Regions from separate parts of the Homo sapiens genome. Here region 1 is linked to region 2. Evidence: fine-mapped expression QTL. A gene starts in region 2. The other region holds a variant in brackets. All regions are shown on one strand. Distances are between the middles of the regions.

Region 1 (15,774 bases), 220 kb after region 2:
ATCCATCAATTTAATAACAGCCTTTTAGGGAACAAAGAAACATTGCCTCCTTGGGTAAACACTTCGATTATGAGATTTTTTTTTTTTCCAAATTCACAACTTTAAAATGTAAAAGGAAACAAAAAGTTTCTTTTCAAATCTAGGAAATGTGGCAGCAGGCCAAGTTTCTCCCAGTACAGCAGCTGTGAGGTACCAGGAATCCAGGGTGTGGAGTGGGGAAGGTTCTAGAAAATGGGAGGGAGAGGGAGGTTGCTCAAAAGGCTGCCAGCTGGGCCCTTTTTTCCAGGACCAGGCTTCTGAATGGCAGTGCCAGACACGTGGGCCAGAGCCACGAGGACAAGGGCCTGAGGCCTGGGCTGAGGCATGCTGGGCAGTCCGGGGAAGCGAGAGGCACGATTGTCCTTGGGACAAACACAGGCCCACTTGAGGATGAACAGGATGTCCCAAGCAAGGGAACCAGAAACTGGCCAGGACAGGAGTGCGATAGGGCTGAGGTGACAAGCTCAGAGTGCCAGCTGGGAAGAGCATGAGGGGCTCCCTCCTACAGGTTAGAGGCTTCCCTGGGATATCCAGGCCATGCGGTCACAGAGCATGGTCCAGCCAGAGCAGCTCCCACAGTCACCTGCCCCTCCTTCTACTTGTTCCAAGCCAAGAGCTGCAGAGCTCACCTGGTGCTTTTGTACCTCTCTCCCCCAGCATGGGAAGGAAGGGCTACACTTCTTTCCAACTATGCTGTAAAGCCAACACAGCAAATTTACAGAAAGTTTGGAAACTTGAGAAAAATACTCACCTCCATACCCTCTGACCCAATTATGTTTTTCACTTTTGCACACTCTCTCCTGGTCCTTGTCCTCATTTCTCAGCTTTATAATCAGTGTCCTGCCTCCTCCATGTGACTGCAGTGTCCTCATGATGGCACCTTAACCCCTGTGAAATTTACTTAACCATTTCCTGATTTTGAGATCTTTTAGGTTGTTATCCTTTTTTAAGCTATTGTAAATAACACTGTAATGAGCATCTTGGTTCGGATAGCCTTTCCCATATATTGAATACATTTTCCTTCTGGGGAAGAAAATCCCAGAAATGGGATCACTGGGCTAAAGGATTCTGAAAAATGGTTCATTTTCCCTTTTAAAAAAAAAACAAAAACCCTGATGATTGCTTTTCTGCACCTTTAACAGCATAGCCTTTTTTTTTTCTTTTAAAAAATGTCTCATTTCATAGATGAGAGACGACTTCTGACTGTTGTTCTCAGCAGTCACACCTCCCCTTAACAAGCCTGACACAGCCAGGCTAGTGCCAGGCAGTGGGGACGTACTTGGGGCCGAGGGGGTGGGGGCCCCACTGTGATGCCTCCTGTGCCCACTGAGCCGCCCCCCTGCCGCTCCGTCCCCATTGCTGCAGGTTAATTGATGGCACCAACATCACCATGGAGGATGAGCATATGTGGCTGATCCCCTTCTCGCCGGGGCTGGACCATGTGGTCACGATCCGCCTGGACAGGGCCGAAAGCATCGCAGGCCTGCGCTTCTGGAACTACAATAAATCTCCCGAGGACACCTATCGCGGGGTAAGCTGGGGAGCAGTGGCCGTGCTCAGTCCAGCATCAGGGAAGCAGCACCTTGATGAATGGCTGGCGTGGCAGCCAGAGAGGAGCATAAATCCTCCAGAATTTTCCAAACGGAGCTGGGGGCGTTATGTCCAGGGAGAGAGAGAGCTGCTGTTTCCTTCTGCAAATGGCAAATGCAGGCTAAAGAGCGCAGGGCATTTCCAGGGAACTGCACAGCACCGTTTCTCCTGGTGCTGGGGGGTCCTAGGCAGGTCCAGGCCCCAGCTTGCCATGGTCAGTTTTGTCCCTCAAGTCCCTTGAGTGCTCGGGTGGCCAGGCCTCTGCTGAGGGCTTCACGGGCATTCATTGTTTCACTGGATTCTCATTCCAGCCAATGGGAGGTGGGTGTGATTACCCCCATTTCTTAGGGTCTAAAACTGAGGTCCAGGAAGGTTCACTTGCCCATCCAAGGCCACACAGCTGGAGTCTCCACCTTGGCCAGCCAGACCTGGAGCCCACATTGTGATTTCCGTGTGATGTTTTGCTGAGTGAGAAGCAGCAGGGGGGCGCTTCTGAGACTCAGCCTCGGTGGGAATGAAGAAGAGAGCCTCGGAAGAGCCCTTTTCTCTGGCTTTTCTGGCCTCAGGTGACTGAATGGGTGCCCTCCAGTCATGTAAAAGTGACAATGAGGCCACCGAAAGGTAGCAATTCAGCTAGGGCCCTACTATCAGGAGGGCCTGAGTCTGAGTCTCAGCTTGGACCCAACCAGCTGCGTAACCTCTGGCACGTGGCCTGCCTTCCCTGGGCCTGTCTCCTCATCTATAAAATGAGGAGGGAATAACACCTGCCACGGCGGATTGGCATCACCGTTGCCAGGTAACAGTTGACAAAGCCAGGACTCAGCCTCAGGTGATCCCCAGATCTGGGCTCCCCACCATATACCCACCATGGAATTTATTCTAGGGCCTTAGGAATTGTATCACAGACCAGGTGTAGAGGCTCACGCCTGTAATCCCAGTACTTTGGGAGGCTAAAGTTGGAGGATGGCTTGAGCCCAGGAGTTCTAGACCAGCCTGGGCAATACAGAGAGACCCCCATCTCTACCAAAAAAATAGGCAGGCTTAGTGGCACACACCTGTAGTCCCAGCCATTCAGGAGGCTAAGGCAGGAGGATCTCTTGAGCCCAGGTTGAGGCTGCAGTGAGCTATGATCTCATCATTGCACTCTAGCCTGGGTGACAGAGCAAGACACCATCTCAAAGAAAGAAAAATGAAAAAAAGAATTGTGTCACATCTTACAGCAGGATCGGCAGCCCCTGGCCCTCCCCGTGTAGCAGGAGCTTAGCCAGCATGCTCCTCTGAGCAGGCCGGTCACAGACCCTCCCAATGCCGCCCTGTGTCTCTATGAACGCTCCCCTGGGTTCAACACATTGAAGAAGTCAGATATATTGACATTAAAAAACAGCCTTCTGCCTCAAGTTGTGCCTTTGGGCCTTAAAATTCCCTTGAGCAAATCACAGTCTGTCTGGTAGAGCTTCTGTGACCTGAATTCACCATCTGGGGATGTTGGGCTGAGTTCCCATCTCACAGGTCTGGGCCCCACCAGCCAGACAATGGCTACAGTGGGATGAGGTGGGGGTGGGGGGGAATGGGCACGTGGCCTGAGATGGGAGACCCCCACTGCAGTGAAATGGGTGCTTTGACTCAGATCCCACACCCCAAAAGGCCTTCCCGAGCACCAGGGGTCCCTGACATGTGGTTGGAAGCCAGGGCCCTGGACTCCTGGACTTGGGGCTTCAAATCCCTTCAGTGGCCCTCGGGCAAATCACTTAGTCCCTGTGAAGTTTAGCTTCCTTCCCTATAAGATGGAGGTGGTGATAGAGGTCACCTCGAAGGGAATGAGCAGAGGACATGTGGCCAGCTCTGCCCAGGGAAGTCAGGGATGCTTCCTGGAGGAGGTGTTGGCCCTGGAGGATGGACAGGGGCTTCCTGGGCCTCTGCTTTGCCATCACTGAATCTACTTTTGGGCGACTCTGTCCAGGGCACACTCTGGCAGCTCCAGGCTTATGTCCTGCTAGCTCCAAGCCCAGCAGAAGAGAAAGCTCCCCTTTCCAGGCAAGCCAGCAAAACCCCAGGAGTCATGCTGATGGGCCCGGCCATGTTTCAAGTTCAGCTCAGGGGGCCCAGGTAGGAATCCCCCTTGAGGAAAGCAGATGGAGAGATGGAGGACAGGGACCAAGTTCTAGTGACAGCCACGCCCGAAGCCAGGTAGCACCACACTTCAGGTTTACTTGTCCTGTAACTGACATAGAGGGGCTCCCAAAATGCTGAAGGAACGAGGGGCCCCAGGGGCACATGAGAGCCAGGTCAGGGACCCTTCCTCCCTTCCTTTCTGCAGGAGGAGCGCCTCTGCCTCTCCCTAGAGGAAAGGCACCAGTTGGATCAACAGCTGCACCCATGTTGCTGACCACGAATGTGGGCTAAGGTGTCGAGGAGAACCAGGCTCCAAAATCTGAAATCAGAGAGTGATGGCTGTTGCCCCTCCCTGCCCATAGAGCAGGTGGTGGCTGGGCCGCCTCAGACTCTACCATTAGGACTTTGAAACTGACCAGTAGAACCTGGCCATCTGGCTGGAGAACTCTGGCTAGAACAGGGAGAGATGTTGGCTCAAATCCACGTGAATCCTGCAAGCTCTTAGAAAGCATCTGCTGTGTTCCAGGCCCTGAGGCAGACAGAGAGGTGGTCCAGCCAGAACCTCTGCCATAAGAGAGACCCAGAAGCCACTGGGATGCTGCTAGGCATACAGGCCCAAAAAGGATGAGCTCAGTGCCATGAGAAGGAAGATCAGAAAGAGGCCTGTCCTGTCCTAAGGGAGAGCTCCCAGAGGGGTATTGATGTGTGAGCCAGGGGTTGAAAAAGGAGTGATAGAGGCTAACATTCACGAAGTATACAGTTTGTGCCAGGCTCTGTTTAGGGCACTTTACGTAGGTTAACTCATGACCGTGCCCATTTAACAGATGAGGAAATTGAGGCATAGGGAAGGTAGGTAACATACACAGCTACTAGTGGTGCACATGGAAGCGCCTGAGTCCATGCCCTTGACCTCCATCTCATGCCGCCCCAGGCCGCTGCAGCTGTTGAGGTGGGCGAGGCCTTGGCCAAGTCACGTGCCACCCCTGAAAGCCGTGGACCAGTGTCCGCTGTAGCAGGGGGCTCGCCTGTCTTGTCCTCTGCTACCTGCCCAGCGCCCACACAGCACCTGATATGGGAAATGGACCTCGGTCAGGTGGCTCTGCGAAAGGCTCCCCATGGTGAGCACAGCTGCCAGCAGCTCCGGTCACGTCAGCACCGCTTCTGTCCCCACATGGCCTGCCTCCCTTCAGTCATGTTATTTCTTTTGTTTGCCAGGCCAAGATTGTCCACGTCTCCCTGGATGGCCTGTGCGTCTCCCCGCCAGAGGGCTTTCTCATCCGGAAGGGGCCAGGCAACTGCCACTTTGATTTTGCTCAAGAAATCCTCTTCGTGGACTACCTACGGGCTCAGCTGCTGCCCCAGCCGGCCAGGAGGTGAGGAGAAAGTGGGCGCCACACACAGCCCCTCCCGGCCCCTGGGCCCGCTTGCTTTGCAAGTTGCTCTGATGTACATTCCGAAAGGGTTTTGAAACGATGATCAAACGCATTGCTTTTCAACTTAGTCATTTTCTAAAGCTCAGCCAAGCCTCACCGGAAGCCTGTGGAATGGACTTACCTTGTCTGGGGACATTTGGGTTTTTCACAGTCTGGAGTGCTGAAGATTTTAAATGCTTCATTGCGTTTCCTGCTGAGAAAAGAGGCTACAGCCTGCCTCCATTCCAGAAATGCCTGCCGGCCAGTTTGGGGAAGGGCCTTCCTTCTCCCGTTTCTGTGTTCCTGATTTAGAAAGATTCAAGGAGAAAAATAGAGCTTAATATTTCATGGATTCACTGGGATTTCTCGGCCCCAGTCTCAGCTGCATTAAGTTCATAACGATTTGTAAATGCCACGTTAAGTTTACTCATTGAAACCCCCTGATGTCCAAACGCCAGAGGCCAAGCTCTTGAAACAAAATGAGTTTCCCTGCACTGTAGCGGGGTTGGCTGGCTGGGCTGGTCACTAGGAAGTCATTTAATTGTAACATTGCCCTTGAAATGGAAGAGAACCAGGCTAGGGCTGGAGGGCACTGACAGCGGACCAGGGAGAGGGGCCCCGTCAGGAGGGCCGTGGAGGAGAGGATCCTTCCCGAGGGCCAGCTGTGTGAACACTTTGATGTGTCCTTTGGGAAATCCTTCCAGCCACCCTTTGACCTAGCCAGTATGATGCCCGTTTTACAGATGTGGGAACTGAGGCTCTGGCTGGTGGAGCCAGGTGCTGAAGATCATGAAGCCAAAGCCATCAGGGCTGTGCCTGCCTTCCAGCCTCCTCTCACTTCCCTCTCCCCATCCTGCCCCAGACTCCAGCCCTCTGGCCGCTTTCTGGGGCAAACACCAGCAGCCCAGTGACTTCCCACCTTGGGCCTTTGCTCTGCTGCTCCTCTGCGTGGAAGGTTCAGCTCTGGCACTTCCCAAGGCTGCCTCCTCCTGGAGGCCTTCCCAGAGCACTCCCTGAGGCAGCCTGCCCCACCCAGTCCCTCTGCCCTGTCACCCCGTCCTGGCTGTCGGCACAGCGTGGACCCTCCTTGTGTTTAAAGACATAGAGGGGGTTGGTTAAGAAAGGGGGCAGTGGTACCAGGCAACCTCACGTCCCATCCCGGTTCTGCCACTACCAGCTGCATGGCCTTGAGCAAGTGACCTCACTTCTCCGTGTTCCAGTTTCCTCATCCACATCCCAAGCATCTAAAAATACCCACCTCCTAGGGTTGTGTTGAGGAATAAAAGAGTCCATTTCAGGAAAGCCCTGAGCCCCGTGCCTCCCTGGCACAGCATCCTGCCAGCATTGGCAATGACTGTCATCTAGAGCGGGAACTCCACACGAGCAGGGGCCTCATCTCTCTTTTCCCTGCTGCATCCTAGGGAACGCTAAACTGCCATGTTTCTTCAAAGGCTGTTACCTAGGGGGTAACTGGCTGGTGATTCTGGGCCGTCGTGAGCTTCTTCATGGTGCTGTTTTGTGCTTTTTCAGGCTGGACATGAGAAGCCTGGAGTGTGCAAGCATGGACTACGAGGCACCGCTGATGCCCTGTGGCTGTATCCTTCTCCTCCCGCCCCACCAGCACATTCTGGGCCCCGAGGCAGCGCCTGGGCCGCAACTGCCCAGCCAGGGTTTCAGGCGGCCACAGATGAGGCAGCTGGAACTCCATGCAAGGAAACCAAGGCAGAGGATAGGAGGCCTCCTGGGTCCTCAGGGCCACTAGGAGCTGCTGGAACTGGGGCAGCCAGGCTAGTTCCTGCTGAGGCTGGAGGGGGCAGCACCCAGGACTCCAGCTGGGAGGGGCTAGAGAAGCTGGCACTGACCCCAGTGGCTGGACTGGGGAAGGGGGGTGTCCTGGAACCAGCCAGGGAGGAGGTGAAGATAGAAATAACTTGGCAATCCAGGCACAATAGCTCACACCTGTAATCCCAGCGCTTTAGGAGACCAAGGAGGTTGGATTGCTTGGGGCCAGGAGTTTGAGACTAGCCTGGGCAACATAATGAGACTCCATATCTTAAAAAAAAATAAATAAATTAGCTGGTGGTACATGCCCATAGTCCAAGCTACTTGGAGGCTGAGGTGGGAGGACCTTTTGAGCCCAGGAGTTCGAGGCTGCAGTGAGCTCTGATTGCACCACTGTACTTTAGCCCAGGCAGCAGAGCCCAGCACTCTGGTACTACTATCATTCCCATTTCACAGCTAGGAAAACTGAGGCACAGAGAGGCTCAGTAATTTGCCCAAGGCTGCACAGGTGGGAAGGGGTAGGGCCCAGGGGAGGTGAACCCAGGCAGCCTGGCTCTAAGGCCCGCTCTCTAGCCAGCCAGTTCTGGAAGCACTGTCTCTGGCTATGCCATCATCTGAGAGCCACCCGGCCTGCTCCTGGGAGTGCGGGGAGTGAGCAGAGCACAGGGCTGAGGAAAGGCTTGATGCCCAGCTCTGCACGTGGGACTTCAGCAGCAATGGTGGTCTCCTTGCCCCGGCCCATGGCCCCTGGCGCTGTGAGGTTTATGTGTCCCCTTCTTAGCCTCCTGTTTACTTGAAAGGGATGGAGGAGGTTGCAGGTACTCTGTTCTTGTCATTTCACAACCAGGGAAACTGGAGCATTTTGTTCAATACCATACAATCAGTTTGTGACACAGATGTTTCCCCATCCTGCCTGCTCCCTGGAGAGCACCCTCTCCTCCCGTCCTGTCTCCTGGGGCCTAGAGGAAGGCTTTGAATTCCTAATACACACACACACGGGCACACGCACACGTGCACACATGCATGCATACACACACATGAACACTCACATGCACACACACACACACATGCACACACATGCAATTTAAGAAAATGTGATGCTACCTATATTTTGATAGGCTCTAGTTGCAATAAGAGAAAAATGTTTTTCTCTCATTCATCAACATAAACCCAAAACAATTCCTCTTATCTTTGCCATTGTTTTACTATATTCTGAAAAAAAAAAATTAAGCCTTCTTTTCCTTAATAAAGTGTCCCAGTCATTTTCCAGTTTCAGCTTCTCACCAGCTGGGGCGACCCCTACTACATCGGCCTCACCGGCCTGGAGCTGTATGACGAGCGAGGAGAAAAAATCCCCTTGTCGGAAAACAGTATCCTTTGTAGGACAGGAGTGGGCTCCACCCAGACTGAAGGGAGCATGGGAGGGTCGGGAACGGGGCAGAAGCCTTGTGTGCAGAGGGAAATGGCCCTCTAGGAACCAGAGCCCAGGGGGCTTTGCTTATAGTCAGATGCTGACCCTTGGGGACGGGCAGCAGAGAGCAGCTCCCAGCCCTGCCTGCTAAGACATCAGGAGCAGGAATTCCACAAACCAGAGTCCTGTGGTCCAGTGAATTGAGAGAGGCTGCCAACTATAGCGCCCCCTTCTCGGAGAACCACAGATACTTTGGAGTTCCAAAGGCTCTGACAAGGTCTGCAGGGAGAAGCCTGTTGCACTGTGTTCAACTCAGTGTGTCCTGAATTTCTTAAGTATGGAACCCTTTGTGCATAGTATGCCCACACCAGAATTTGCAGACTGTTAGCCCAGTGCATTTTAAAATGAGTTGCTAATATTTTTAGAAATCACGAGGTTTCACATGAAAACCCTGATCTCTGGTTTCCCCTGAGAAATTGGCAACACAGGCCCTTGATTATGCATAGTGACAATGGCTGGACCTGGTTATCTGTTGCCATTTCTCCCCAAGCATATCCTTCTGGTCTACCTTAGCCCCCCACTCCTCCCATTGTTATCTACCAGGCCCCGAAACTCACTGCTAATATTTTCTCAGGGCTCACTCTGTGCTACCTCATCTGCCCTCACAACAATCTTGTGAGGTGATTGCTGCTGTTATCCCCATTTTACAGATGAGGAGCCTGAGACACAGAGAGATTGAGTAACTTGCCTAATGTCACACAGCCAGTGAGTGTCCAGACACCAGCTCTTGACCAAGCAGTAGGCTATCCTGCCTCTTTCATGTAACCTGCCTGGCCCCCTCGGATCTTGAATCTGTGATCCCTGGCCCACCACAGTTAGGGAAATACCAGGGCAAGTCGAACCCCAAAGCCTGCCTTGCATCTGTTTGGGGTCCCTGGCTTCCAGTTGGATCCTTTTCTGCCTTCCCCTGGTGCCACCACCCTCCTCAGCTGGGATGAATGATTCTTGATGTTTTAGATCATTATTAGCGACTCCTCGAAGCTATAAAGTTTCATTGATTTTACCAAAGTGCTCACATCTGGTGCACTCTGAGATCCTCACATCCATCCTGGGAGCTGGAGGTTTTTATACCCATTTTACAGATGGGAAAACAGGCCCAGGGTTGACCTGTGACTTGCCCACGCCCTCACAGGTCATAATGGCAGAGGCAGAGCTAGAAGCTGGGTTCTGCAGATCACATTAGCTGGGTCCAGCTGCTCCGAGGTCCTTCCACACTGACCAGGAAGAGAGGCTCGGCATGATACTCACATGCCAGGGTAGAATCCAGCCACCGCCCCATTCCCTTCCAAAAGAAAACCTCCGCAGAGCTTGCCCTCCACCCTCTCAAGCAGCAGCAACATTTTACGTCCCCAGCTCTGGCAGTTCCCTGCAACGTCTCTTTTTCAGCTGGCCTTCTGTGTGGTTTCCTTCTCTCTCTACTTGAAACTGACCACCTCTCCAGACACACCTGCTCCCCTTGGGCCCGGCACTCCCCGTTTCCCCAGGACACGTCCAATTCAGCTGTCACTGCTGC[G/A]GCTGCCCAAAGCATCAGCCCTGCCAGCCCCAGAGTCCCCCGAGCCACGCCATCAGCCTGAGGGTGGCTGGCAGCCCCGAGCACACAGATTTGGGTTATGGCAACTTAGACGTCTCCTCAGATATTGCGGCCTTCCCCGACAGCGTGAACTCCCTGGAGGGTGTGGGCGGGGACGTCCGCACCCCAGACAAGCTCATCGACCAAGTGAACGACACCAGTGATGGCCGGCACATGTGGCTGGCTCCCATCCTGCCGGGCCTGGTGGGTTCCCGGCAGCGGCCACCGCAGCTCCTGGCCCTCAGGCGGGCAGGGGGACTTTCTTTCCCTGGTCTCAGTGACACGTCTTTCTTCCAGGTCAAGTTAATCTCAAGCCAAGATGCTTGGGAGCTGTCAGAAAGGTTTAGGTCTTTGCTAACTTGCCTGATGGGGTCAGCTCTTCCAGGCCAGCAGTTCTTTCTCTTTTATAAGTGGACACCTGGGGCGAAAGGGGTCCCATGGGAATCTGAAGCCAGGAACCCCAGCACAACTGCCTGAGGGCTTGGGCGTCCTGGGTCCCTGCAGGCAGCCCTCTCTGGTTCTCTGCTCTGCCTGGCTTTGCAGCCACTGTGCCCTCTTCCTCCCCACCCAGCTCTCCGCACACTCACGGTTTCTGCCCCTTCCTACATCACCAGGTAGATGACCCCAGTACGGCCGCCCTGCCCTCCTTCTGGCCCTAAATTGGCCTGGTCAGCTCTTCCGACCAACTGACTCAGTTTCCCAGATCTCAAATCTTGCACTGGGTCCTGCTTAGCTTTTAGCTCTGAGGCCTCATGGTGAGAAGACGTGGTTGGTTGTGGTGGAGAGGAAGGGGAGAGGGCATGGACGGGGTGGTCAGCCCCCCTGCAGCCTCTCAGCCCAGGGCCAGGTGCCTGGTAGAGATGCACAGCGGGTTCTTGGCAGCCATATGACTAGGGATGTGTCCCTTGTCCATGCCATGGGACTGAGTGGGGGATCGGGGGCACCTTTTTCTCTGAAAACACAGGAAGGTACAGCATCAGCAATTCTATGACGGAAGTTTTCCAAAGGCCACCCTAAAATTAGACCCCCCCTATTGAGCGTCCTCAGCTTCCCCTGCCCCATTGCAGAGGGGGCAACAGAGCTCTGTCCTCCCTGAGACTCAGGCCACCCACTGACGGCCAGCGGGTATTTTCCATTGTCTAGCACTGGAAGGCCTTTTGGGGTGCGGCGACTTCAGCTGTTGCTCTCGCGGCTGGACTCCAACATCTGTATCTGCTTGAGCCTCACAGGCAACTGAGTTTGGAGACCCTCACCCTGACCTTTATTGTTTCCATGGTCCAGCCAGGAGGCTGGCCCTACCCGAGCAGCCGCACTCCCTCTTGGCATATTCTGAGGATGGTCACAGGCTGGGGACCAGGGCCTGGGGCAGGACTGAGCCTGCAGTCTGTGGCCAGTGTGGAATGCTTATTTCTTGATTCTGTCTTGCAAGGGAGGGCCTCCCCTAATATCTGAGAGCTTTGGTTGGGGGTGGGGAGAGGGAGGGCTGTTTGAGGCTGCTCCGTCCCACTTTTCCCACTGGATTCTGCCCCGATCTAGACAGCCCCCTTTTTACTCCCCCAGCGGAGGTTCACAGACACGCCCTGGACATTGTCCAGCAGCACCTTGGCGTTGCTTCTCAGTGATGGTTTGGGGAAAGGACAGACAGGGTCAGATGCTGATCACCATGGCTGGTGCTCAACCCGAGTTGGGGACTGTCCCTTTAGCTCATGGGGCTCTAGACTATTTCTGGGCCTGACCTGAGGGGACGTGGGGGAGGGCCGAGGATGTTCCCAATCCTCCACTGGCATTTAAATGAGGGCTCCGACAGGCCCAAGAACACAGGCCCTCCAAAAGCCAGCTCAGCGGTTTGTTGCAAATGCAGCCACACGTGACCTGACTCAAGATGGGCTTCGAGGAGATGAAAGGGGGCGGAACTCCAGGCTGGCCCACGTGGCAGGCGCTGCCTTGGGCACCACCGCTCACCCCAGCCCACGCCTGGCACCCCCAGCCCAGCCAAGCGCCTCTGTTTCCAAACATGCCTGTTTTAATTAGTGCCGCTCTCTGACAGGTGAACCGGGTTTATGTGATTTTCGATCTGCCTACCACCGTGTCAATGATCAAACTGTGGAATTATGCGAAAACACCCCATCGAGGGGTGAAGGAGTTTGGCGTAAGTACTTATTAGCTGAGTTTTTTGAGATAATTATGCTCGTTGGTAATTAGGCCGCCGGCAATTATCATTTGTCGCAGTTTGATTTACTTCTCTCTGTTGCAACCCTCAACACAAATGCCTGGTCGTCAGATGCAGGCGAATTTCCCACCCAACCATGAATTCAGAACCTGCTGGCAGTGATTTCAGTGTCACCCTGAGCAAATAGAAAGTGGGTTTTCTTTCGTCTTTTCCTCTAGAATCCCACTGGTTTGGGGCGGTGACCCTGGGATGGGGAAAACAGGGACCCTGGATACCAGAGACCCAAGTTTGCCTCCAGCTCTGCCACTTGTGCTAATGGTATTAAAGCCCCTCGGGCCTCAATTTCCTCATCTGCAATGCATGCTGATAGCTCCTGCCTTTCCCAATGGTTGTGAAGATCTGAAATCACAAGGCAGACACAGCACACAGTAGGCGCTTGTTCCTGACAGCCCCGTCTTCCCGAGGAGAAAGCCTTGGCTCAGAGCAGTAACGCGTTCTGCCCAAGGTCAACGTGGGAGGGACGAGGGGGACCCATGAGTCCTGCCCCGTGTCCCTGCAGCTCCTGGTGGACGACCTGCTTGTGTACAATGGGATCCTGGCCATGGTGAGCCACCTGGTGGGGGGCATCCTGCCCACATGTGAGCCCACCGTGCCCTACCACACCATCCTCTTCACCGAGGACAGGGACATCCGCCACCAGGAGAAACACACCACCATCAGGTAGGGCCCCAGCCGGCCCCATGGCCTCCCCACCAGCCCTAAGGAGGATGGATGGCTGGGACACACGGCCAGGAGCCTGATCGAATCTTGTGTTTCCTTCCTACCCTCAGTAATCAGGCCGAGGATCAAGATGTCCAGATGATGAATGAAAACCAAATCATTACCAACGCGAAACGGAAGCAGAGCGTTGTTGACCCAGGTCAGTGGCGTTTCTCTGCCCAGAGCATTGTGCCTTGGGAGCTCGGTCTGAATATAGAAGGAGCTGGTGGCCTTGCACCCCCACCCTCACCCCTGCCTGCCCCTAGACCGCTCTCCTCTGCCCAGGAGCCTGCCCAAAGGCCTAGGGAGGGACTGAAGAGGATGGAACCAGGGGAGCAACATGCTTCCATCTTCTTGCAGGCACCTGTAACACAGTGGAGCTTCCTGAATCTAAGTGTCGTGGGCACAGAGTGGGGAAGCAGTCAGGGACAGAGCACCATGTTAAAGGGGTTTGCCCCGGGCCGTGGGAAACCAATAGAGGATGCCCAAGGTGAGGGCTTCCCGGAGGAGGTGATGTTTGAGCTGGATCCTAAAGGATGTGAGGAGTGTGCCAGGCAGCCTGGGCAAAGGCTGAGAGGGGTGTTGTGGCAGAGCCTGCTCCAGGCGGAGGGAAGGGGCCAGCGTGCCAGGCGCCCCGAGAGCAGGGACTTTTCCAAGGGCCTTGAATGGCAACCCAGGCTGCTGGATTTCACTGGGGAGTGTGGGGCACCCCTCCAGGGTTTGAGACTTAGTAACTCTGGTCCCTCTGTTCCCTGTCATGACAGCCTTACGTCCCAAAACCTGCATCAGCGAGAAGGAGACGAGACGACGGCGCTGCTGACTGGTGAAGGAGGGAGAGCTGGTCCTCCCACTATGGTGGGCTCCGTCAGCAGCCCCACTCAGTGCCTGCGTCCCTCACCCTCAGTCCCAGGAGCTGGAAGCGAACCACAGTGTTGAGGGGAGCCCGCTGGGAAGAGGGGACTCGGGAGGACAGCCCTGGATACTACCAGAGTGACAGATGGCTGTGGCTGCAGGGCAAAGAGATCCCCTGCAGTTCTGGGTTGGCCACAGGGAGCCCAGGACACCCGCCTTCATGCCTCTGCTGTGAGACCCAGCAAAGCAGGGCCCATGACCACTAGGGCCTGGGCTGACCCTGACTCAGAACAGGACAATGACGGGGTGGGGAGGCATCCCATCCAGCCTCAGAGGGCCCAGAGAATGGCTGAGCAGGACAGTGGGAGACCAGACCCTACCCCGCAACTCCAGTAAGCAGGGCACTGCCCAGGGAGACTGCCTTCAGAAACCTGAGCTTCAGCGGCCAACACCCCCCATCCCCTGCGCATCCTTGTCTCATTTGGGGACTGGTGGAGCTGGCTGAGAGGTTGGGGTAGTTTCCTGGTTACAGGGGTCCACAAGACCCTCTCTCATCCCGGTATAGGGGCCTCTCTCCTCTCATCGGGCCTGATAAGGGATTGGCCAAGGCTGTGTGCATCCTGCAGAGGGAAGGAAGTCAGCTGGGCCACCCGCCATCCACCTTGGCAAGAGCTGGGCCCACTCTGGCAGGCCAGGGTATCATCTGCGTGCTGCTGCCGGGCCAGGAAGGGTGGGTGGGTGGCCAGCAGGCTGGCAGCTCCAGACCCCAGAGGGCCAGAAGAACTCACCCCAGTGCCCTCTGGATGCAGGTGTTGGGGAACACTGAGGACAATCCCCCATCTCCCCTCACCCTTGAGCAGGCCCTCCCTGCACTCTCTGCCACATGTCCCTCCTGGTCTGATCACGGCTGTGCTCACTGATGTGGCTGCTTTCTGTCTCTGCCCCTGTGCCCTTGGAGGCAGGCAGTGAGGTGCTCCTTTCCCAGGCCCCCACCCCTTCTCCCCCTTCAGCCACTTCCCAGCGAGTTGGAAATGTGCCTTGCACCCCCAGCCGAGTGAAGCCCAGAACGCATCTATATGCATCGATGTAACAAGCTCGGATCAGGGACCTAATTGGTTTCCCAGTAGTGGGTAATTTCTCGTTGCAAATATTAATCCGTTGTTTTTCTGGCGCCCAGCCCGGCCCGCCGCAGTACTGTACTCGAGGTACGTTCCTATGCAACCGAGAGCCCCGGCAAATACTTCATGAGCTTAGCAGCCTGGGCTCGAGCAGCTATGCAAACGCGCTTTTCATTTGGAGCACGGGGCTGATGTGAAGATAAGAATTGTTTCTCCTGGAGAAAGATCCATCATTTCTCCAGCTTCCAAGCCCCCGGCACCTCTGCTCAGCTCCCAGATGTGACGAGCACCTCCCGCCAGGGGGAGTCAGGGGTTGATCAAACCAGCTCTTGTGACCCAAACCAGTGCCGCTGCATTAAAGGGAGGCCCAGCTACTCCTTCCCAGCTGAGATGTGGGTACAGGTCAGATTTGTCAGGGAGATGGCACTAACACGACACAAGCTCACTCCCAGAACCGCAGCTGATGTTTATAATAATCGTATGTACTGTGCAATTTAGGAGGGGAAAAAAAGGCTGTACAAGCTTTAACTCTAAAATAAATTTCTATTTTTTTCCTCTTGCAAAATTAATAAAAGATGTTATTAAGAATATAGTCCGAGTCACCGGATTTGGGGTCAGATGGGGAGTCCATGCTGCCTCCAGGAGCTGAGTGACACAGAGAAGCCCTCACTGAGCTGCAGATGGGGTCATGATCTCGCCCTGACTACTCAATGAGATTGTCCTGCCGTATGAGCAGACAACAGTAGCTCATCCATAGAGAGTGGTGATTACATGCCTGGCTCTAACTTGTTTAATCCACGTAACACAACCCTTTGGGGTGGGCACTATTATTATCCTCACTTTACAGATAAGGGAGCTGAGACACAGAGAGGTTGTGCAGCTTTCCTGGGACACACAGC
Region 2 (15,061 bases):
AGATAATCTTGACAAGCAGGTTCCTGCCTTTCTATCCCACAGAACGCAGACCTTTCCAGGACTCCCCAGACTATTCCAGAAGCTGGGTGCTGGGACCTAAACCTCCTTATTGGCCAAGTCATGGGCTTTTGTTTCCCTCCAAATCTGGTACTCAGTCTCCAAACCACCAAGTTGGACGAAATGATTCAAGGCTTTCCTCCGCTTTTTTGAGATGGAGTTTTGCTCTTGTTGCCCAGGCTAGAGTCCAATGGCATGATCTTGGCTCACTGCAACCTCCACTTCCCAGGTTCAAGCAATTCTCCTGCCTGAGCCTCCCAAGGAGCTGGGATTATAGGGGTGTGCCACCACGCCCGGCTAATTTTGTATTTTTAGTAGAGATGACGGTTCACCATGTTGGTCAGGGTGGTCTCGAACTCCTGACCTCGGTGATCCACCCGCCTCAGCTTCCCAAAGTGCTGAGATTACAGGTGGGAGCCACCACAAGTGGCCAAAGCTTTCCTCCCTTTAAGATCTCATCTTTCCATCTCTCCTTAGTTATCTCTCTAATATCCTAACCCATTTTCATGGTTTGCATTACCGCCTGCATGTTAACAAGTCTCACCTTTGAATCCTCAGTCCTTTTTCTCCAAATACAGATCCAATGTCTTCACTTGTCTATTAAATGCCTCCCATTCCAAATATGATTACCTCTCCCCAGCTCCAATTAAGTCCCTTCTTTCCCCTCTTACTACCGCTTTCTTCCATGTGCCTCTTACAACACCATGGAGACATTTTTCATTTGTGCTTCTTTCATGCAGTTAGCCAAGCTTGTCAAGTTTTTTTTTTTTTGAAAAAAAAAAAAAATACATACATATATATATATATAATTTTTTTTCCCCTCACTATGTTGCCCAGATTGGTCTTGAACTACCGGGCTCAAGTAATCTGCCCACTTCAGCCTTGCAAAGTGCTAGGATTACAGGTGTGAGCCACCTTGCCTGGCTGCTTGTCGAGTTTTATTTTGAAATCTCACTCATATCCTACACTAGTCTAATTGCGGCTAAATCCTATGTACATGTTTCAGCCCTTTCCTTCCTTGCCCCCTCTGTGTTATCTGCACCATTTAACCCTCCATTCCTTTTTTTTAAGACTTGAGTTTTGATCTTGTCACCCAGGCTGGAGTGCAGTGGCGCAATCTCGGCTCACTGCAACCTCTACCTTCTGGGTTCAAGCGATTCTCCTGCCTCAGCCTCCCTAGTAGCTGGGATCACAGGCACCTGCCACCACACCCAGCTAATTTTTGTATTTTTAGTAGAGAGAGGGTTTCACGATGTTGGCCAAATGATCCACCTGCCTCGGCCTCCCAAAGTGCTGGGATTACAGGCATGATTCACCACACCCAGCCCAACCCTCCGTTCTTAAATGATCCTGTCTCCTCCCAAACTTCCAGAACACCACTCTGACCTGACTGTCCTCTACCTCTCCAGCCACACCGCCTCAGTCTTCTTTTGAAAGTCCCTCACCCTCCATCCAGCCTTGAAATGTAGGTGCACTGCAGAGCTATATCTCAAGACCTCCAACCACACTACACTCTCTCTTAGGGCTGATCTTAGCCAGCTGCTTTAATTACCAGCTGCTAGGAATGACTCACAGATGTCTAGCTCAGTCCCTCCCTCTGGCCTGCTTTCACTCCCACGAAGCCAGATGTTTACTAATTAAGACTCTTCACTTGGACAACTCAAAAGAACCTGAAGCTAAATGTGTCACATGTCTCTTCAGCAAAGTCCCCACCTCCCCCAGACTCAACCCCCACGCTGTTCTTCCGTGTTCCCAGCCTCAGAGATGAGAATCAGGGTTCGCTCAGGTGCCCAAACAGCAGCCTACTATGTCTTGACTGCCTGTGCTCTTCATCCCCACGCCCACCATGGTAAGCCAGACCATGACTAGATTACTAAAAATCTCTCAACTTCACTCTTTGCCCCTAGTCTGACCCTCTCTTCAGTGACTTCTCACTGTCCTTTTGATAAAGGATAAGCTTTTTTTTTGAGATGGATTCTCCCTCTGTCACCCAGGCTGGAGTGCAGTGGCACAATCTCGGCTCACTGCAGCCTCCACCTAGCTGGGATTTCAGGCGTCTACCACCACGCCCAGCTAATTTTTGTATTTTTAGTAGACATGGGGTTTCACCATGTTGGCTGGACTGGTCTTGAACTCCTGACCTCAAGTTATCCGCCCACCTCTGCCTCTCAAAGTGCTGGGATTACAGGCTGATAAACTCTTTAAGTAGGTTAAAAGACTTGATTCCAGTCCAATTTGGCTGGAATCTGAACTCAGACCTTCCTCAAAGTCTGGGTTCTTCCCTTGCTAGTTGACTTTTAGCATGCCACTTGACCCCTCAGGGCCTCGATTTTCTCTTCAGGAAAATGGGGAGAATATTACCCATCTCCTAAGGTTTCTGTAAAAATTAAATAACATGTTGTATTAAGGATCTTAGCACAGTCCTAGCTATTCCTCATTCCCTACCTCCAATTCCACACTTCAGCCACTTACTTCACATTTGCTGTTCTCTGTCCAACAGTCCTCTTTGCCAACTGGCTGCCTAAATCCAACCTTTAAGTTTTGTCTCGAACATTATTTTATTTTATTTTTGAGACAGAGTCTCACTCTGTCACCCAGGCTGGAGTGCAATGGCTGAATCTCAGCTCACTGAAACCTCTGTCTCCCAGGTTCAAGTGATTCTCCTGCCTCAGCCTCCTGAGTAGCTGGGATACAGGCATGCGCCACCACGCCAGGCTAATTTTTGTATTTTTAGTAGAGATAGGGTTTCACCACGTTGGTCAGGCGGGTCTTGAACTGCCGACCTTGTGACCCATCCACCTCAGCCTCCCAAAGTACTGGGATTGCAGGCATGAGCTGCTGCACCCGGCCTGTCTTGGACATTATTACCTCTTGGAACCTCCCCTGACCCTCACAATATGGCTTAAGAGCACAGACGCTGAAAATAGCCTGGGTTCAAATCAATTCTTAGTCACTTATTGCCCCCAGAACCTTAGGTTACATAATCCCTCTCTGTGACTCAGTGTCTTCCTCTGTAAAATGAGGACGATAACAGCACCTACCTCATAGGTGAGGATCAAGTGAATTTAATCTCCTGTTTAACGGAGTTTAATCAAGTGAGGATCAAGTGAGTTTAAGCTCCTAAAGCTTCTAGAATAGATTCTTAGAACAGCAATGTGGCCGGGCGCCGTGGCTCACGCCTGTAATCACAGCACTTTGGGAGGCCGAGAGGTGCGGATTGTCTGAGGTCAGGAGTTCGCGACCAGCCTGGCCAACATGATGACACCCCATACCTACTAAAAATGCAAAAATTAGCCGGGCGTGGTGGAACATGCCTGTAATCCCAGTTACTCAGGAGGCTGAGGCACGAGAATCGCTTGAACCTGGGAGGCGGACGGAGGTTGCAGTGAGCCAAGATCGCGCCACTGCACTCCAGCCTGGGCCACAGAGAGAGACTCTATCTCAAAAAAGAAAAAAAAGAACAGCACCTCACCCATGAAGTCCCTGATAAATGTCAGCTTTTAGCATTATCGCTAATTGTCCTGATACGCAGATCTCGAGTTGCCCTAGGCTATCTGCACCGAATGAATATACCATGAGGGTCTGTTGATCTCAGGAGTCTCCAGTCTGGCTCTAAAGTGTCTTTCCTGCTCTAATCCTATCCTCCAATGTAAAGGAAACATTCTTTTAAGCCTGAAGAATATCCCCAATCCTGTTCGCCATTACCCCAAAACACACACAGGGACAAAACGGGACATCACTAGATTCTCCCCCTCCCCCCGCCAACTCCATCGGACTCCAGGGCCCTGCCAGGCCTGAGGGACCCCAGATTAGCCTTACCGCCGTGCCCCAACTCAATCAACAGGCCTCCGGTACTTGCACAGCCCCACTCCATTCCCCCGCCCTGCCCCCAGCTCCATCAGCCCCCGGGCCCTGCGCCCGCCCGCCCGCCCGCCAGGCCAGGCCGCCCGCTGACCGGTCCTGGAGCTGTAGGTCGGGTCGCTCCCGAGGCTCCTCATAGAAGCTGATGCCCGGGTGCGTGGCGAGGGCCCGCCAGAGAAACTCCTGCGTGCAGGGTTCCAAAGGCAGCGGGAAGGGCGGCACTCGCGTCTCCAGCCGGCTCCACAGCGCTGGCAGACACAGGCCATCGAGCCCCTCCAGAGCGACTTCGTCCAACAACGACTCCAGCGCGTCCATTGCTACTTCAGTCGGCGGCGCCCGGGGCGCATGCGCAACGCACCGCCAAGGGCCTTGGTCCATCGCGCCTGCGCACAACGATCCGGGGCCCGGGGAGGTGGGTCAGACCCAGGGTTCGGAGGAGGAGTTCCAGCGCGCCGGCATGACGTCACTCCCCGGGGGCGGGCTCAGTAAGTGGAGCTCCACCGTCATTGGTCCGGGGCCCCGCAGTAACCAGGGGAACTGCAAACAGTGTAGAGGCCGCTTCCGGTTCGAGCTCCCGGAACCGCCGCCTCTAGGGATGGACGGTGAGTGTCTGTGGGCCCCTCCGGGAGGTCGGGCTGTTATTCTCCCATCCCTCCCGACCGCGCTTTGGGCAGAATCCTAGGCCATGAACCCCTGGACCACCACTTCCTGACCCAAGGGGGTCTCCGAAATGAGGGATAGGGAGGCTTAGTGGTCTGGAACGCGGAGGAGAGCCTGGGGGAGTGGTCAGTGCTGTGACCATTCTGCTCGGCTGTGGTCGTGAAGGAAACCGGTACTGGCCGGGAGCTCAGTGAAGGGATGTAGGGTGGGGAAGGAGAAGTAGAGGTCTGAGGAGGGTCTTGTGAATGTTGGGATGTGGAACTGTCGGATTTGGGAGTTGATATGAAAACAAGCTTGATCGTGGGAGTGCAATCGTCAGGTGCTGGGAAAGGGAATTGGTGTGGGGGGTGAAGGGAGTTTAGGAAATACTCCCTTTCTGTGCCTTGGCGTTAATAATAATAGCTCCCTTTAACAAAGTGCTTTCCAGTACCAAGAACTCTGTAAGTACTCTTGGGCAACACCTCGCTAAGCTTCATACCAGCCTTTTGAGTTCAGCGTTGTTCCATTTTACAGATGATGAAACTGAGGCTCAGAGGTGTTAAGGAACTTGCCCAAAGTCAAACAACCAGCATGTAGCAGAGTGAGTGAGAAACCCAGACACCCTGTCTCTGGAGCTGAATTATGGAGCTTGAGATTTGGACCGGTTTTGAGGGTCCCTTTATTCCAGAGGTTGTAAATGCAGATGTCTGCAGAGGAGAGTCTAGTGAGCCGGATTGAGGCTGTAACTGAAAATCAATTCCTCACCTGAAAGGAAAGCTGCTCACCAAGCACCAGCTGATTGTCCTCTTGGGGTACTTCTCAAAAACAGGGTTGGCCAGTCACTCTGAAGGCCAGAGACAGCTTGTGGGCCCCCATTTAGGGATCCCTGATTAGAGTCATGGTATTGACAATTGGAAGCAAATGGAAAATAGGCTATTCTGATATCTCACTTTGCAGATGGGAAGACTAAAGTCTAGAGAGACTGGTAGGGTCTGGGCTAGAGTCCAGATCATTTTTCTAATTACAGCACTGTCCCTCACTTCTCGGGAATTTGTTCCTGGGGAATCCACATTCTTTTTATATTCACTGAATGTAGTGTGGAGAAAATGTTTTTAATTGAACATTCTGTCATATGCTTAAAATATATCTTTTCCCTTTGTACTTTAGAGGTACTATAAAATGTGCTTTACCATTTTGCCTTCTGGAAAGGTCAATGTAATGTTGCTATAGAACATCAGTCCTCAAACCTTTTAAGCCTTGGGACCCCTGTATGCTCTTACCTCAAAGAGCTTTGTTTATTTATATTTATGATATTTACCATATCGAAGATTTAAACTGGGAAAATCTTAAGATGTCCATTAATTAGTTCCTTTAAAAATAATAAAAATTGGGCCGGGCATGGACTCGTGCCTGTAATCCTAGCACTCTGGAAGGCCAAGGCAGGTGGATCACTTGAGGTCAGGAGTTCGAGACCAGCCTGGCCAACATGGTGAAACCTTGTCTCTACTAAAACTTAGCCGGACGTGGTGACACATGTCTGTAATCCCAGCTACTTGGAAGGCTGAGGCAGGAGAATCATTTGAAGCCGAGATCTTGCCACTGCACTCCAGCCTGGGCAACAGGGCGAGACTCTGTCTCAAAAAAACCCAATAATAATAATAATAATTGGCCAGGTGCAGTGGCTCATAATAATCATAATAATAATTGGCCATGTGCAGTGCCTCACACCTGTGATCCCAGCAGTTTGGGAGGCTGAAGTGGGTGGATTGCTTGAGCTCAGGAGTTCAAGACCAGCCTGGGCAACATAGCTAGACCCTGTCTCAAAAAAACTCCAACAACAATAAACCCATTACTTCTGAACATAAATAATATTTTTAATGGAAAACAATTACATTTGCCTCCAAAAAATTAATAGGAAGAGTAGCATTATTTTATGTTTTTTCAAGTTTATTCAATAGAAATAGAAAAAACTACTCTCATTTCTGCTTCAGGATTCAAACTGTTTTTTGTTATGCTGTTTTGGCTGGTGTGTATGAAGAAAATTTGGCCTCATACAAATATATAATTGGAGCAGAGAGAAACATTTTAATTGCCTTTTCAGATAACTGTAGACACTCTCCTTTCATACTATACAAAATTTAGCAAATGCCAGTTTCTTTTTTCTTTTTTTTTTTTTTTTTGAGAAAAAGTCTCACTGTCGCCCAGGCTGGAGTGCAGTGGCACGATCTCAGCTCACTGCAACCTCTGCCTGCTGGGTTCAAGCGATTCTCCTGCCTCAACCTCCCGAGTAGCTGGGATCACAGGTGTGAACCACCATGCCCAGCTAATTTTTTTTATTTTTAGTAGACATGGGGTTTCCCCATGTTGGCCAGCTGGTCGCAAACTCCTGACCTCAGGTGATCAGCCTGCCTCCATTTCCCAAAGTGCTGGGATTACAGACGTGAGCCACCATGCCTGGCCTGCAAGTGGCAGTTTTTTTTTTTTTTTTTTTTTTTTGAGACGGGAGTTTTGCCGTCGTTGCCCAGGCTGGAGTGCAATGGCCTGATCTCGGCTCACCGCAACCTCCGCCTCCCGGGTTCAAGCGATTCTCCTGCCTCAGCCTCCCAAGTAGCTGGGATTACAGGCATGTGCCACCACGCTCAGCTAATTTTGTACTTTTAGTAGAGATGGGGTTTCTCTATGTTGGTCAGGCTGGTCTCAAACTGCCAACCTCAGGTGATCCGCCCGCCTTGGCCTCCCAAAGTGCTGGGATTACAGGCATGAAGAACCATGCCAGGCCACAAGTGGCAGTTTCTTAAATGTTAGTCACAGTGTGTCATCTGAAGCCTTATAGGTGAACTTTTATACTGTGTTACATTAAAATCCATTGGTCTATCTTGCCCTTTCATTGGCTGCTTTACCCATATATGGTTTTATAACATCAGCCATTGGTCGTTTAGAAAATGTTGGTTCAGTGAGTTATGCAAATCTAAACGTTGACCTTTCAGATGCCATTATACGGTATTTAAAAAATCACATTTGTTAATATCACCACCTATTTCATTTTAAAAAGGAGTTTAAGTATTAGGAAACTATCAAACTCAAGGTAATGGAAACAAGTTTTCAACTTGTTTTCACTTGACAGCTTGAATTTTAACATTGGCAGCAAATATTGTCAGCTGTTTCCTTGAAGTGACAGACTCACTTATTTCATATTTGAGAAAATTTCTGCCAAATTCCCAAGACTGAATAACCAAAATTTGTCTATTATTTTATTTACTGCCATGTACTCACATTTAAAACAAACAAACAATTATTTTTATTTAAGAATGTCCTGATGGTTGGGTTCAGTGGCTCACGCCTATAGTCCCACCGCTTTGGGAGGCCAAGACAAGAGGATCTCTTCAGCCCAGAAATTCAAGACCAGCTTCGTCAACATAGTGAGACTCCATCTCTACTAAATAAATAAATAAAATAAATAAATAAATAAATAATAGTCAGGCATGGTAGCATGCACCTGTGGTTCTAGCTGCTAAGGAGACTGAGGTGTGGGGATCACTTGAGCCCAGGAGGTCAAGACCAGCCTGGGCAACTTAGTGAGACCCCATCTCTGTAAAAAGTAAAAAATTAGACAGGTATAGTGGCTCGTGCCTGTAGTCCCAGCCACTCAGGATCAGTTGAGCTTAGGAGGTTGAGGCTACAGTGAGCCATGACTGTGCCACTGCACTCCAGCCTGGGCAAAAAGACCTTGTCTAGAGAGAGAGAGAGCAGGGGGTGGGGTGGGGGGAGAGAGGAGAGAGAAAGGAAGGAAGGAAAGAAGGGAGGGAGAGGAGAGAGAAAGGAAGGAGGAAAGAAGGGAGGGATGGAAGAAGGGAGGGAGGAAGGAAGGAGGGAAGGTTTCTAGTACATTGTGGTAACATTGCCTTGATTCAGACTGCAAGCAGTTTTACCCACCATTGCTTTGTGTCATAAGTACAAATGTCAACACAGCCAGATGGGGTGGCTCACGCCTGTAATCCCAGCACTTTGAGAGGCCAAGGTGGGCGATCACCTGAGGTCGGGAGTTTGAGACTAGCCTGGCCAACATGGTGAAACCCTGTCTCTACTAAAAATACAAAAATTAGCTGGGCATGGTGGCACATAACTGTGGTCCCAGCTACTTGGGGGAGGCTGAGGCAAGAGAATCGCTTGAACCCAGGAGGCAGAGGTTGCAGTGAGCCAAGATCATGCCACTGTATTGCAGCCTGGGCAACAGAGTGAGACTGTCTCAAAAGAAAAAAAATTCAACACAGTGAAATACTCTTCAAATTATGATTAAAATACTTTTGTCTTTGTGGACCCCTCCTTCTCCCAGGATCTGCACCTTTGAGAAACATTGCTACAGTCCATTTTCAGGAAGGCTGCTTTGTGCCTTCTAATGAGCATCTCTGTACTTGCAGTCTTAGGACGTTATTGTAGCCTAGTAGAGGGGTATGTTCATTTTCAGATTGGCCCCCAAAAGGAAAAATTTATTCTCAGAAGTGTTTACCCTAGGGTCATATTTGACCTCCAAAGAATCCCATTTTCTGTTCTGATTTTTTAAACTTTGATTTACACTTTTTTTTTTTTTTTTTTTTTTGAGACAGAGTCTCGCCCTGTCACCCAGGCTGTAGTACAGTGGCGTGATCTTGGCTCACTGCAACCTCTGCCTCCCAGGTTCAAGCGATTCTCTTGCCTCAGCCTCCTGAGTAGCTGGGATTACAGGTGCACGCCACCACGCCTGGCTAACTTTTTTGTTTTTTGTTAGTAGAGATGGGGTTTCACCATGTTGGTCAGGCTGGTCTCGAACTCCTGACCTCAGGTTATCCACCTGCCTCAGCCTCCCAAAGTGCTGGGATTATAGCCATGAGCCACCGCACCTGGCCCTGATTTATACATAATTTTATAGGCACATACCTATTTATTGGATAAAGTGAAGCATACCTTATTGTGATTCTAACTAACTAGGTAAGCCAAGCCTGGCCTTATTAGAAAGATGTTTACTTCCTACGTTCACAAAAGCTTAAATGTCTAGCAGATGCCCTCCAAACTGGACTGTAATTTAGTTTATTCGGCATGTCTTAATCACCATAGCTTTTCACAACCCTTTCCCTGGCCTTTTGATTTTGACTTTGGGCAGGTCCTATCTGTTTCTGTGATGCAGTGTAATGTCCTTAGGTTTGGGGGCCAGATAGCCCTGGATTTGAATCTCTGCTGTACACTTTGACCTCTCTGAGCCTTGGTTTTCCTGTCAGTAAAATGGACATGATAATGAAGCCTACCTTGTTTTGTGGCTTCAATGAAACAATGCATCAAGTCTGGCATATAAAAAAATGTTCCTGGCTGGGCGCGGTGGCTCACGCCTGTAATCCCAGTACTTTGGAAGGCCGAGGCAGGCAGATCACCTGAGATCAGAAGTTCGAGACCAGCCTGACCAACATGGAGAAACCCTGTCTCTACTAAAAAAATGCAAAATTAGCTGGGTGTGATGGTGCATGCCTGTAATCCCAGCCACTTGGGGGGCTGAGGCAGGAGAATCGCTTGAATCTGGGAGGCAGAGGTTGTGGTGAGCCGAGATTGCGCCATTGCACTCCAGCCTGGGCAACAAGAGCGAAACTCCGTCTCAAAAAAAAAAAAAGTTCCTACAGCCAGGCGCGGTGGCTCATGCCTGACTTTGGGAGGCTGAGATGGGTGGATCACGAGGTCAGGAGTTCAAGACCAGCCTGGCCAAGATGGTGAAATCCTGTCTCTACTAAAAATACAAAAATTAGCCAGGTGTGGTGGCGGGTGCCTGTAATCCCAGATACTCGGGAGGCTGAGGCAGAGAATTGCTTGAACCTGGGAGGCGGAGGTTGCAGTGAGCTGAGATTGCACCACCGCACTCTAGCCTGGGCCAGTGAGTGAGACTCTGTCTCAAAAAAAAAAAAAAAGTTCCTATATAGTAGCTGTTGTTATCATTATCTGCAAATAGGCAGACTTATTCCACACAGTTGACAGAAGAGGGAAGCGTGCTGATGAAGCTCTCTAGCAGATGATAACTTTTGTAATTAGCACACTCTTTGCTTAAGAGAAAATCCAATGTTTGACATTTTTTATTCCATGAAGGTACATTGGCAGTGTGTGTTTTCTGCCTATGAAAATGTTCGCCTTTCTGTTAAAGTTGAATTTTCCCCAGTACTTTAAAAATATGAAATGGTTTAGGAAAAAAAATTCTATTTCATTTTCAAGGAACATAATAATTAGACAAAAGTTCAGCACATTGATATAATTAGAAAGGATTTGGAAGTTGTTCATTTGCTTTTCACTGCTCCCCTAGAGCAAATATTCAACATTTCCCTTGTTTATACTGTTCATTTGCTTAGCAAACTTTCTCAAATAATTAATAATGCCAAGATGATATTTAGCCTCACTTGTCCAAATAATCCCAGACTGCAAACAGGTGATGGTTGAATTAGGAAGGTTTTGCTGAGAGTACACCATCGGTTTAGCTGGTCTCTCCTGTCCTTGTGTGGTATTTACCTGGCTTCTTGGTGATTTGTCTGTTTCTCTTACTACTTAAACCCAGCAAAAAAAATAATAAAATAACAATCAAATGCAATAAAACAAAGCAAGCATTCAGCAGGTGAAATAAACATACATCCCATAGACTCTTTGTGTCTGTTCTGTTTTCTTCTTGTTCCAATCCTTCTATCTGATTAGTTTCTTTTCTCTCAGATTTTTTCAGAGTTCGTTCCTCCTGTCACTTTAACTTATAGGAAGTCGGCCCATAATGTTTTGCTTATTTTTCCTTATGAGATTCATTCCATGATTCAACATTTCAGTGCCTTCCGTGCATTGGAATTCAGAGATGCCAAAATGAGTAAGATTGAATCCAGGTGAAGGCGATATGGGAATTCATTGTACTATTCTTGACATTTTTCTGTGAAGTTGATTTTTTTTTTTTTTTTTGAGGTGGAGTCTCACTTTGTAGCCCAGGCTGGAGTACAGTGGCGCGATCTTGGCTTACTGCATCCTCCGCCTCCCGAGTTCCAGTGATTCTGCTGCCTCAGCCTCCTGGGTAGCTGGGATTACAGGCACATGCCACCACGCCCAACTAATTTTTGCATTTTTAGTACAGACGGGGTTTCACCATGTTGCCCAGGCTGGTCTCGAACTCCTGACCTTAGGTGATCCAACCCTACCCCTTGGCCTCCTAAAGTGCTACGGTTACAGGTGTGGATTTTTTTTTTTTTTTTTTTGAGACAGAGTCTTGCTCTGTTGCCCAGGCTGGAGTGCAATGGTGAGATAACTCACTGGTGCGTCCATCTCCTGGCTCAAGCGATCGTCCCATGTCAGCTGTCCAAGTAGCTGGGACTACAGGTGTGTGCCACCATGCCCAGCTAATTTTTTATTTTTTGTGGAGATGGGGGTCTTGCTATGTTGTCCAGGCTGGTCTCCATCTCCTGAGCTCAAGTGATCCTCCCACCTTGGCCTCCCAAGTTGCTAAGATTACAGGCATGAGCCACTATGCCTGGCTGGAAATGAATTCTTTATATCAGAGCTTGCACAAGTGGGCTGAAACAGCCCACATGCATGTTTATTTGGCTCATAATGTTTTGTTTTTTAAATTTTTGAATTAGTTGTCAACATTGAAAAATGAGCAGATTTCTTATAAATACCTGATTGTGGTATTTTCTTGAAAATATCAATAAAGTCTGTTAACACCAAATCAGAATTCTGCATGGCAACAATTGTCCCACCACCCGAGTTAAGTGGAGACTTTGCCCTTTAAGAGGGAGGTGGGCCTGTCTAATGACTGGCTTCTCTCATTGTGTCTGTCACTCCTAGGCCTGTCAGCATTTGTACTTAGAATTCTACTTTAGTATTAACTTGTACAGTTGTGAAAACTCCTGTGGACTTCCTTGTATGCCATACTGGACTATACTTATTCTTTTTGTTTGTTTTTTTGTTTTTAGATAGAGTCTTGTTCTCTCACCCAGGCTGGAGTGCAGTGGTGCGATCTCAGCTCACTACAGCCTCTGCCTCCTGGGTTCCAGTGATTCTCCTGCCTCAGCCTCCTAAGTAGCTGGGATTACAGGTGTGTGCCACCACACCTGGCTAATTTTTGTATTTTTAGTAGGGATGGGGTTTCATATGTTGGCCAGGCTGGTTTCGAACTCCTGACCTCAAGTGATCTGCCTGCCTTGGCCTCCCAAAATGCTGGGATTACAGGCATGAGTCACCATGCCCAGTTTCTTTTTGTTTTAATCTGAAAAAAAGGGAATATATTATCTGCCTTTAGAAACTTCATAGTATGGTGAGAAAGCAGACATAAACAGATGACTACATTTCAACATGGGAGTCCTTAGAAGATAATATTTGTAGAGGTCTTCCCCTTTCCCAAAGCAGTGTGGCCCACTGCCTGCTATTGTAAATAAAGTTTTATTGGAATGCAGCAGCACCCTTTCACATACATATAGTCCATGGCTGTTTTCTTGCAGAGTTGAGTAGTTGTAAAAGAGACTTATGTGGCCCACGGGCCAAAAATATTTACTATCTGGGCCTGTACAGGAAACGTTTGCTGACTGTTGCCGTGGCAGATCTGATTTGATTCCTGAGACAGCTCAATGGGATACTGTGATTGTGTCTGTTTTATACCACACACCTAGTAGGTAGCAGAGCCAGGACTCAGTCGAATAAGGTCTACACTTGGTAGTATGTTATGGAAGGCCCATTTCAGCCTTGTTACTGCCAGTGTGTGGCCAGGTTCTCACACCTGGAGAGTGAGTCTGTGGGGAAGAACTGGCCACTGGGCTGATGGAATAATATACATTTTGAAAGGTACCCGTTTTGACTACATTCCCAGCTCCCTCAGCATCTGGTCCCATGACTGCTTCTCTCTTTCCAAATGGGAGTAGGCTAATGCAGAGCAATGTGGTTGGTTGCAAGGAAGAACTTGAAACTGTTTGCAGAGCACTTTATGTAAAAGTAAGAAAGTGTGACTACTGATGTCCCATGGGGCTTTGCAGCTTTAACAATTGCCCTATGGATCATATCACCTTGAAGTATAGAATTTCTCTGGGGAATTAGCTCCCCTCCAGTCTCATCTTTTTAGACACTTGCCTACCTGCTCTCACACCCAGAGGTTTTACACTGCGCTGTACAGTGTCTATCAATATGTTTTTCCATATTCAAAAATAGTGATTTCAGGCCAGGCATGGTGGCTCATGCCTGTAGTCCTAGCACTTTGGGAGGCTGAGGCAGGAGGATCAGTTGAGCCCAGGAGTTTGAGATCAGCCTGGGCAACACGGTGAGACCCCACCTCTACAAAAAATTGTTAAAAATTATTTGGGCATGTTGACACATGCCTGTGGTTTCAGCTACTCGGGAGGCTGAGGTGGGATCACCTTAGCCCAGGAGGTTGAGACTACAGTGAGCTGTGATCATGCCACTGCACTCTAGCCTGGGCAACAGAGCAAGACCCTGTCTCAAAAAAAAAAAAAAAATAGTAAGGTCATGGTGGCTCATACCTATAATCTCAGCACTTTGGGAGGCCGAGGCAGGCGGATCACTTGAGGTCAGAAGTTTGAGAACAGCCTGGCCAACATGGTGAAACCCCGTCTCTAGTAAAAATACAGAAATTAGCCAGGCATGGTGGCACCTGCCTATAATCCCAGCTTCCTGGGAGACTGAGGTGGGAGAATCATTTGAATCCAGGAGGCAAAGGTTGCAGTGAGCCTAGATCGCGCCACTGCACACCAGCCTGGGCGACAGAGCGAGACTCTGTATAAAAAAAATAAATAAATAAAAAATCCAGGTGTGGTGGCTCACGCCTGCAATCCCAACACTTTGGGAGACTGAGGCGGGCAGATCACGAGGTCAGGAGTTCAAGACTAGCCTGGCCAACATGGTGAAACCCCGTCTCCACTAAAAATACAAAAATTAGCCGGGCGTGGTGGCGGGTGCCTGTAATCCCAGCTATTCAGGAGGCTGAGGCAGGAGAATCGCTTGAACCTGGGAGGCAGAGGTTGCAGTGAGCTGAGATCGCGCCACTGCAGTCCAGCCTGGGCTATAGAGTGAGACTCTGTCTCAGAAAAAAAAAAAAAAAAAAAAAAGGTAATTTCACATAAGAACCTGGACTTCTCAGTCTCTTGATAAACAGGGTGCTTTGGGCCCTCAGCACTTTCTTGTCACGTAGCTCTGGTCCTCTAGCACTGAACAGTGGCCACCCCCTTGACCTGGGACATGTGCTGATGACCCCTTCTGGCTGGTGTTACCTGTCATCTGGTGCTCACTTCTTCCATTGATCATATTGGCCTCCTTTGCAGGCATCTGAGATTTCAATGCCAGCCCGAGACACTTGGGGAGGTTGGCCATCTCTGGAGTACACCGTCTTCTTTCGCACCTCGCTGCCTTGCCTGTGCTGTGTTCCCTGCCAGCTGTGCCCTTCTTTCAAGTCACTTCCACACTGTAAATTGCAGTGACCAGCACCACCTGCAGAATTAGCTACTCCCCCATGGCAGGACCC

Evidence for each region. PIP is the estimated chance that this variant, and not a neighbour inherited with it, causes the effect.
Region 1: its variant is fine-mapped to the expression of KATNIP in whole blood (TOPMed, PIP 0.94).

Annotation. Positions count from the first base shown.
Region 1 is chr16:27,764,905-27,780,678 of GRCh38, forward strand. It overlaps KATNIP (katanin interacting protein), which reads left to right. Exons shown (of 28, transcript NM_015202.5): 20 at 1,405-1,570; 21 at 4,957-5,114; 22 at 6,684-6,748; 23 at 8,195-8,305; 24 at 10,041-10,180; 25 at 12,024-12,125; 26 at 12,706-12,866; 27 at 12,977-13,065; 28 at 13,670-15,440. The coding sequence ends at 13,725. Among named protein-coding and RNA genes, the nearest start is that of KATNIP, 220 kb to the left of the region's middle. RefSeq lists enhancers at 4,533-5,732, 6,569-7,334, 9,571-10,071. The variant G/A (reference allele first, on the strand shown) is at 9,920.
Region 2 is chr16:27,545,658-27,560,718 of GRCh38, forward strand. KATNIP (katanin interacting protein) reads left to right here and starts at 4,487. Exons shown (of 28, transcript NM_015202.5): 1 at 4,487-4,520. The coding sequence starts at 4,514. GTF3C1 (general transcription factor IIIC subunit 1) reads right to left here and starts at 4,256. Exons shown (of 37, transcript NM_001520.4): 1 at 4,013-4,256. The coding sequence starts at 4,233. RefSeq lists enhancers at 4,153-4,232, 4,243-4,352.